Linked DNA regions of Homo sapiens: region 1 is reported to be linked to region 2. Evidence: microRNA targets listed by miRTarBase, many of them from high-throughput screens and not tested one by one. Region 2 holds a microRNA gene; the other region holds the end of a gene's coding sequence.

Evidence for each region. The annotated mature microRNA hsa-miR-532-3p reads CCUCCCACACCCAAGGCUUGCA and lies in region 2 at 1,677-1,698, shown strand. An mRNA with a match to its seed (bases 2 to 7 or 8) in the 3' UTR can be bound and repressed. Matches are read on the target gene's strand: a 7mer-m8 pairs with bases 2 to 8, a 7mer-A1 pairs with bases 2 to 7 and ends in A, and an 8mer does both.
Region 1: the mRNA of AIFM2 is a reported target of hsa-miR-532-3p. Seed matches in the 3' UTR shown: 7mer-A1 at 908-914 and 7mer-A1 at 2,138-2,144.

The regions. Positions count from the first base shown.
Region 1 is chr10:70,110,930-70,114,929 of GRCh38, reverse strand. It overlaps AIFM2 (AIF family member 2), which reads left to right. Exons shown (of 9, transcript NM_032797.6): 8 at 1-10; 9 at 601-2,659. The coding sequence ends at 752. It overlaps MACROH2A2 (macroH2A.2 histone), which reads right to left. Exons shown (of 9, transcript NM_018649.3): 9 at 2,648-3,412. The coding sequence ends at 3,247. Among named protein-coding and RNA genes, the nearest start is that of AIFM2, 20 kb to the left of the region's middle.
Region 2 is chrX:50,001,528-50,006,054 of GRCh38, forward strand. It overlaps MIR532 (microRNA 532), which reads left to right and starts at 1,621; the gene lies at 1,621-1,711. The region is part of intron 3 of CLCN5 (chloride voltage-gated channel 5); the gene reads left to right. It overlaps MIR188 (microRNA 188), which reads left to right and starts at 1,976; the gene lies at 1,976-2,061.

The DNA of each region.
Region 1 (4,000 bases), not on the chromosome of region 2:
TACAAGCCGGGTAAGAGAGGCCCCATGTGCTTTGCAGTTTTAATAGAGTTTGGGGTTAAACATGGGGAAGCCTTTTTGGGCTATCCCATACCTGGCCACTAGAACAAACTCTCCAAGCTGGTGATGGAAACATCCCCTTAGAGCTCTTTAAAAATAGGCTGGGCGCGGTGGCTCACACCTGTAACCCCAGCACTTTGGGAGGCCGAGGCGGGCAGATCACCTGAGGTCGGGAGTTCGAGACCAGCCTGACCAACATGGAGAAACCCCGTCTCTACTAAAAATACAAAATTAGCCAGGTGTGGTGGTGCATGCCTGTAATCCCAGCTACTCGGGAGGTTGAGGCAGGAGAATGGCTTGAACCCAGGAGGTGGAGGTTGCAGCGAGCCAAGATCACACCATTGCACTCCAGCCTGGGCAACAAGAGCAAAACTCTGTCTCAAAAAAACAAACAAAAAAAAATCAGGGTCTCACCCACCTTCCTAAAGCGATTTCACATTTCCGGCCCTGAGTCTGAAGGCCTCGGGAAGGATCGGCACTCTGGGAGGTGCAGCCCCAGGCGGTTCAGTGAGGTTCTGGTTGTTTCTGTGTCTCTGCTTGCAGGTGCACTGACGTTCCTCCTGTCCATGGGGAGAAATGACGGTGTGGGCCAAATCAGTGGCTTCTATGTGGGCCGGCTCATGGTTCGGCTGACCAAGAGCCGGGACCTGTTCGTCTCTACGAGCTGGAAAACCATGAGGCAGTCTCCACCTTGATGGAGAGGCCAGGCGGGAGAACTACCGCAGCAGGTGGGCGTACGGACTGCTTGGCGCATGGCACCCGCCTGGCAAGTGCTAGAACTAATGCTATTCTTCTGGAATAAGATGCCAATGATGTGGTGGCTAGAAATGCAACTTGTATAAAACAAAAATGGGAGAGAGAGAGGTATTAAACAAATACCCCCCTTAGAGGATACTTTCTGGGTTTGGAAGGTGTGCTTGCTGTGGTACTGGGTGAGCGGCTCATGTGTGCTGGCTGCATGGTGCTGGGGAGGCCACAGCCAGCCCTTCCTCTGCACCTGCCTCCTCTGGGATGTGCATGTGTGTGTACGTGCTTGTGGTCATGACGCGTGCCATTTAGAGCTCTCAGAGCAGGGCAGATTGCTGGGCTCTGGTGGCCAGTGTCTGTCTGTGAGGGCAGGAAGGAGAGCTGCACATTGAGAACAAAGGAGGGACCTGAGGTGGAGAGAGGCCCAGCACCCCAAATCTCTGCCATCACACGGTCGGGGAGCCCATACATTCTGCAACAACCAGGGACTTCACAGGAGCCTTGTTTTCAATTTGCTAACAGGTGCATAATCCCTGTGCTCCTTAAGCCTCATGGCCTTCCTACATTTCCACTTTATTTGTTTGTTTGTTTATTTATTTTTGAGACAGTCTCGCCCTGTCACCCAGGCTGGAGTGCAGTGGCACGATCTCAGCTCACTGCAACCTACGCCTTCTGGGTTCACGTGATTCTCTTGCCTTAGCCTCCCAAGTAGCTGGGACTACAGGCACGTGCCACCATGCCTGGCTAATTTTTGTATTTTTTAAATAGAGACGGGGTTTCACTGTGTTGGCCAGGCTGGTCTCGAACACCTGACCTCAGGTGATCCATTCGTCTTGGCCTCTCGAAGTGCTGGGATTCCAGGCGTGAGCCACTGCGGCCAGCACATTTCCACTTTTAGATCCTACTCCATACCACAGGTTTCATTTAAGAAGAAAGAGCTAGATAAATGTGCTCTTCTGGTTACCCCACCCTGACAGAGTGCATTTTTACACGGCTAGCAGGGGTTGAGACTGCAGCCTGGCCTGCCAGCCATTGGAGGTGTTTAAGGAAGGGCAGATAATGTGACTCTTTGCGGGGTGCCATCTGCTTACCCATTAGCGAGCAGAGGGGGTTTCTGCGGGTGACCCCCAGCATATTTCTAGGTTACTTATGGGCAGATTTGTAAGTGACAAAACTCCAGCTGATGCTGGGAATGGGGAGAGGGCCCTTGAGGGACTTTGTGGTTTTGTGCTTCTGGTTTCCTGGCCAACCCCAGGGTCACTTGTCTGGAGGCCCAGCTGGGCACTAATGTCTGCCACCGACTATGTTACAGTGTATAAATGATTCCTCTATTTGGGAGAGATCTTCCAATCCAGAGGAGCCCCTCTTGGACTGCCTGGGTTAAATCTGCATAGCAGAAGTGGTTGATGAGTTCATCTGAAGAAATTCAGGCCCCACCTCCCCACCCTGCCCCTCCCTGCTCCCTTTTGATGGTGGCCTCTGGGTACTCGGGCAGAGTCCTTGGGACACCAGCCTCTCTGGGGTTCTCAGGCCATCCCGTTGGGGCTGTCGCCCAGGCCTAAGTGAGTCGTGTGCCTCTATTGGAGGATGGCTGTTCCCCTGGTGGTTGCATCCAAGTATCTGTCTTTCTTTATGGACCACGAAGGGAAGCCCACCTTCCTGGAGGCAGGACCTTCGGCCTAAGAAACACAGGCCCTGGTGCTATCTGACCTGGGGTCCAGCGAGGTGGGAATCCCAGTGTGTGAGCGACAGGCCTTCTTCTATTGACTTACAATATTCTAGAAGGACCTACGTGTGGGGACACAGTTTTCCAAACTGAGGAAAATGTTGCAATAAAAGAATATGTTGTAAGAAAGACACTGGATCTTTTATTTTTTTCCTTTCATTTTCTTTTTCTTAAAAAAACAAAATGAAACCAAAAAAAAGCCTGAATCAAAACCTTTTTAGGAGTAGTTACAGATATTATAGGGATGGGGGCGGGGGGCACTAAAACAAAAGAGAAAAGCACCAGTGAGATGTCTTTCCCATTTTCTTCTCTCCGCCACGGAACACGCACACCAACAGAGCCCAGGCCACTTTTTGCCCTCTTCCCTTGGAAAAAGGAGGAACAGAAGATTTAAGAATTTTGAAAGGATTTTTTTCTTGTGTGAATGTGTGTAAAAGTCAATGCTATAAATCTAAAACGAGGTCTGTTTTTTTAAAAAAGTTCTAAAACAACAGGAGGAAAACACATGGAAAGAAACCCCTCGCGGAGACCTGCTTCCTTACAGATGGAGGCTCTTTTGGAGGAGAGTGTGAAGGGCAGAGGGCTCCCTGCGCCGGCAGGACCTGCCCGGCCACCCTCCACTCCCCTGCCATCACCCCTCCTCTCTCCTTTTAAAAAGCAAAACCCCACTCTTGGGACTCGGGTCGTCCTCCGATCCCTGCTGGAAAGTGCGGCGGCTACTTGGCGTCGAGCTTGGCCATCTCCTGCACGTAGATGCCGATGCTCTCGCTGTCGAAGAGCAGGAAGTACACGTTCTTCAGCGAGGACGCGCTCGAGTCATCAAAGTGGGCTGAGATGGCTTTGAGGGTCACCTGGGCCGCAGTCTGTTTGGGAAAGCAGTTTCTGTGCCAAAGCAAAAGAAGAGCCGATGTCATTTTGGTCCCTGGGACCCATGGGAGCATGAAGTGCCTTTGTTTTTACTGGGTGGGGCCTTGCTGTGTGCAGGGCTAGTCCATGCATGATCTCCTTTGACCCTAGCCAAAGGGACAGCCTGGGGGTGGCAGGTGGGGCATGTTGCCCCCACTTTATAGGTGTCACACTGACTCGGAGAGGCACAATGATTTAATTTGATTAAATTAATTTATTTGTTTTGGGATGGAGTCTCTCTCTGTTGCCCAGGCTGGAGTGCAGTGGCGCGATCTCAGCTCACTGCAACCTCCACCTCCCGGGTTCAAGCGATTCTCCTGCCTCAGCATCCCAAGCAGCTGGGACTACAAGTGCGCACCATCATGCCTGGCTAATTTTTGTATTTTTAGTAGAGACGGGGTTTCACCATGTTGGCTAGGCTGGTCTTGAACTCCTGACCTCAGGTGATCCGCCTGCCTCGGCCTCCCAAAGTGCTGGGATTACAGGTGTGAGCCACCGTGCCCTGCCAAGCACAATGATTTTAGTCAAGGTCACAGGGCTGGCCAAGTGAAGAGTGCCCTGTAT
Region 2 (4,527 bases):
CATATGCATACATGTGCCATGTTGGTGTGCTGCACCCGTTAACTTGTCATTTACATTAGGTATATCTCCTAATGCTATCCCTCCCCCCTCCCCCCACCCCATGACAGGCCCCGATGTGTGATGTTCCCCTTCCTGTGTCCAAGTGTTCTCATTGTTCAATTCCCACCTATGAGTGAGAACATGTGGTGTTTGGTTTTCTGTCCTTGGATCCCTTCCTTACACCTTATACAAAAATTAATTCAAGATGGATTAAAGACTTAAATGTTAGTCCCATTTACTCTTGAAAACCCTCCATGTAAAACTGTAACCTGCAGCACTTAAATGACCCTGGTCAAGGTCCCCAGTGTCCTTCACATTTCCCAATTTACTGGGCAATGTTGTCATCTTACTTGACAGATCAACACACAGTTGATCACTCCCTCTGCCTTGAGACTCTACCTGCTTTCCAGGATTCCACACTCATGAGGTTGTCTTCTTACCTCACAAGCCTCTCTTTCTCAGTCTCTTGATGGTTTCTCCTCCTCTTCCTGAATTCTAAGTATTAAAGAGATATAGGGCTTAGTCTTCAGACTTCTTTTTTTTTTTTTAACTTCTCATTAGTCCTCAGCTGTTCTCATCTTGTCTTGCAACTCTAAGTACCATTTTATGTGGATGATTTCTGTGTTTGTATTTCCAGCCTGGACTTCTCTCCTGAATTCCAGATGCCTATGTCCAACTATGTACTGGACATCTGCCCCGAATGTCTAATAAGTATCTCAAAACTTTAACACATCCAAAGCTGAGGTCCTGGTTTTCCTCCCCCTCTCAAAAAGCCCTACTCCTCCCTCTGTGTTCTCCAACTCAGCAAACAGCATTTCCCAATTGCATATGCCAAGGATATGGAGAATTTTAATAAGCTAAAGGTTTTGGATTCATCTTTGACACTTTTTCCCCTCCATTCTCCAAATACAAACTGCTGTCAAATCTTGTTGGCTCTACTTTCAAAATACATGTCTAATCTGACCACACAGCCACTTCTCATACTTCTCACTTCCTCTATTATTTCCACACTAATCCAGCTTTTCCCTGGGCTGACAAGTGCAAGTTCTCTTGCGTCTGTCTGTCTGTCTGTCTCTCTGTCTCTGTCTCTGTCTCTGTCTCTCTCTCTCTCTCTCTGTGTGTGTGTGTGTGTGTGTGTGTGTGTGTGTGTGGTGTGTGTGTGGACACAAAGTGGTTGGTGGCTGAGAGCTTGAGCCTCCTTTTTTGAGTCCTCTTTCTAATGACCTGCATGCCAGATTCTAAGCTTTCTTACCATCTGTTCTCGTATGTGTGTTATTTCATCTGTAAAATAGGGATAATGATCACCTCATGGATATTTTATGAGAATAAATGAGCTATGTGTGAAAAGCACTTAAAACAGTGCTCTGCAAATGTAAATACTATACTGGTGTTAGGAATAAAAATAAAGGAAAAGAAAGAAGGAAGGAAAACAAATATGTTGTAGATAGTGAACATTTCTGAAGGTACATATGTGAATGTACACAAGCACACCTTCTCATTACAGCATGTCTGGGGCACAGTCATAGAAGTCCAAGGCATCTGGGATACGCATGCACACAGTATACAGGAGAGCAGACCTCCCGACTTGCTTTCTCTCCTCCATGCCTTGAGTGTAGGACCGTTGGCATCTTAATTACCCTCCCACACCCAAGGCTTGCAGAAGAGCGAGCCTTCTCTTCCCTCTCCAGTGCATAGGCATGAGCACATGGACAGGTACACCAAAGGGAGGTAGACCCTCTCTTACGTGCTCTGTATGTGGGGTACACTGTTAGCAGCCATCCCATCTGGATGACTGTCCTGCTTCCATGGCCACTGCTCCTAGTTTACCCATCAGCACTCCTGTGGCTATCTTGCTGCCCACTTGCACCCCCCAGGCCAGTGCCTCTTGCCTCCTAGAGCATACCCATATGTCGTGCCAAGAGAGCAAGCCCTTCCCTGCTCCCTCTCTCACATCCCTTGCATGGTGGAGGGTGAGCTTTCTGAAAACCCCTCCCACATGCAGGGTTTGCAGGATGGCGAGCCTCAGCTTTCCTTGCTCTCTTGTGCATGTGTATATACACATACGCACTCCTTCACCAAAAGAAAAACACACACCCATGTGGTGGGAAGGAGAATGACTCTCAGCCATGTCCTTTCTCCCATCTCAGTCTTACATGGATCCTGCAGGAGAGGGAGACTTCTCTTAGCTTTCTCTTGCACATGGTGCAGCCCCTCATACTCAGGGATAGGCACAGCCTAGAGAAGGAAGGGGGGTCTTTTGACCTGGTTCTGTCTTAGCGGCACCTAGAGGAGGAGAGAGAACCTTCTCAGGACTCCTGTACATGGGGCATGATGAAAAGGGAGTCTTCTAGCTAATTCTCACAAACCCAGTTTGTGAGGAAAATTGTGTCTATATCATAACCATATGCAAAGATGTAATATGCACACACATTTTGGGTTCAGAAAGTAGAATCCACTCACTGTGCCATGCCTTTCCATATGCACACTTGTTTGCTCAAGAGGGTGTGTGAAGATCTGTCTTCTTAGACACTCATGTAGATATGAGTCAGATTGTGAGTTTTCTCTGTTATCTCCCCAGACCCAGGATTTGCAGCCGATTCATTTGGTGAGCCACTCATTCATTCAGCAAATATTTATCGAGCAGCTACTGTGTGTTGGGTACTCCCCTATGCACCAGGGATACACCAGTGACCAAAAGACAAGAATCCCTGCCCTAGTGAGGGGAGGCAGGTAGTGAACAAAATAAGTAAGTAATAGATAGTGTGCCAATTGTTGATAAGTGCTCTGGAGAATAATAAGGCAGGAAAAGGGGACAAGGAGTGGGTGGGGGTAGTTACAGCATAGATGGTGGTGGAGAAGTTTCGATATCAAATAGGGTAGTCAGGAAAGGCCTACTGTGTTCTAGGAACAACAAAGAGCCATTGTGGCAGAAGCATAGGGCTGGGAAGTAGTAAGTTACAATGGAAAAAGGGAAAGCTGATAATTACTATGTATCTCTAAAATCTAAGGCCGCTTTTAAAAAAAAAATCATACCATTATCACACTTAAAAATAATTACCATCCAGGCACAGGGGCTCATGCCTGTAATCTCAGCACTTTGTGGGAGGCTAAGGTAGGCAGATCACCTGAGGTTAGGAATTCAAGACCAGCCTGGCCAACATGGTGAAACCCCGTCTCTACTAAAAATACAAAAATTAGTCAGGCCTGGTGGCAGGTGCCTGTAATCCCAGCTACTCGGGAGGCTGAGGCAGGAGAATCGCTTGAACCCGGGAGGCGGAGGTTGCAGTGAGCCAAGATCGTGCCACTGCGCTCCAGCCTGGGTGACAAGAGCGAGGCTTCATCTCAAAAAGAAAAAAAATTGCCAACAATTTTTTAATATCATCACATATCTGTTGTTCCCATTTCCACTTGTCTCAGAAATATCATAAATTAGGATCCAGATAAGGTCCATGCATTGCATTTGGTTGATATGTATCTTAAGTCCCTTTGAATTATATCTTTCCCTTCCATCTATATTTTTTCTTTCCTTATAATTTATTTGTTGGAAGAAAGTGGGCCATTCATCCTATACAGTTTTGCATAGTCTGGATTTTTGTGATCACATCCCTGTGATGTAGTTTACATGTTCCTTCTCCTTGTTTGTATTTCCTGTAAACTGATAGTTGCATCTGGAAGCCTGATCAAATTCAGGCTTAATTTTGAGGAAGGGGGAGCAGAACTACTTCCATTAAGAGGCACAAAATAACTGATGATCATCTTTCTGTGATGTTAGTTGCCACCGATGCTCAATTCTTAGAGCCGTTATTTCATTAGGGGTTGCAAAATGATGATATTCTAATCCCATTATTCTCTTGATTTATTAGCTGGAATACTTCTATAAAGAAAAACTTCCCTTCATCTGCTATTTGATCACCCAGTGTTGCCGTCTTTATAGGCAAGATAGGATAAATGTTTGGTTCTCTTTATTTATCAGTACTCAGAATAATGAGTTGGTTCACTAGCTTACTCTAAAGAGGATTTTTTAAAAAAACTATTATAATAAACTCATAGATTTAAATATATTTGGACTTTTAATCCATTGCAGTTCTTGCCTTCAGTGAAGCTCCAGTGCCCCATCTTTAGCCAGTAGGAGCTTCTTCAAATTGGTTCCTCAGTCCTTTTGACATGCCTCCGTAGTTATCTGATAGCTTCTCCGCTTTCAGAGATGAAAAAAATGTACAAAGCTCATCGCAGATACCTTCCCCAGGCCTGGAATCTGCCATGTCTTCAAGAAGCCCTGGTTTCTTTTAATCAGACATGATATTTAAAGACCATATTTGCCTCTGGATTGGTCATTGTATTTAGGCTTCTACAATGATCAGAACAGAAAAATGTTTTGTTTTTGTGTTTTCTTGTTTCTAGATAAATACATCATGATTCCATTATACTTCTGATTCAAAATCAGGATTACAGTTTTCTGTGTCTTTGCTTCACAAGTATGGTTCTGAC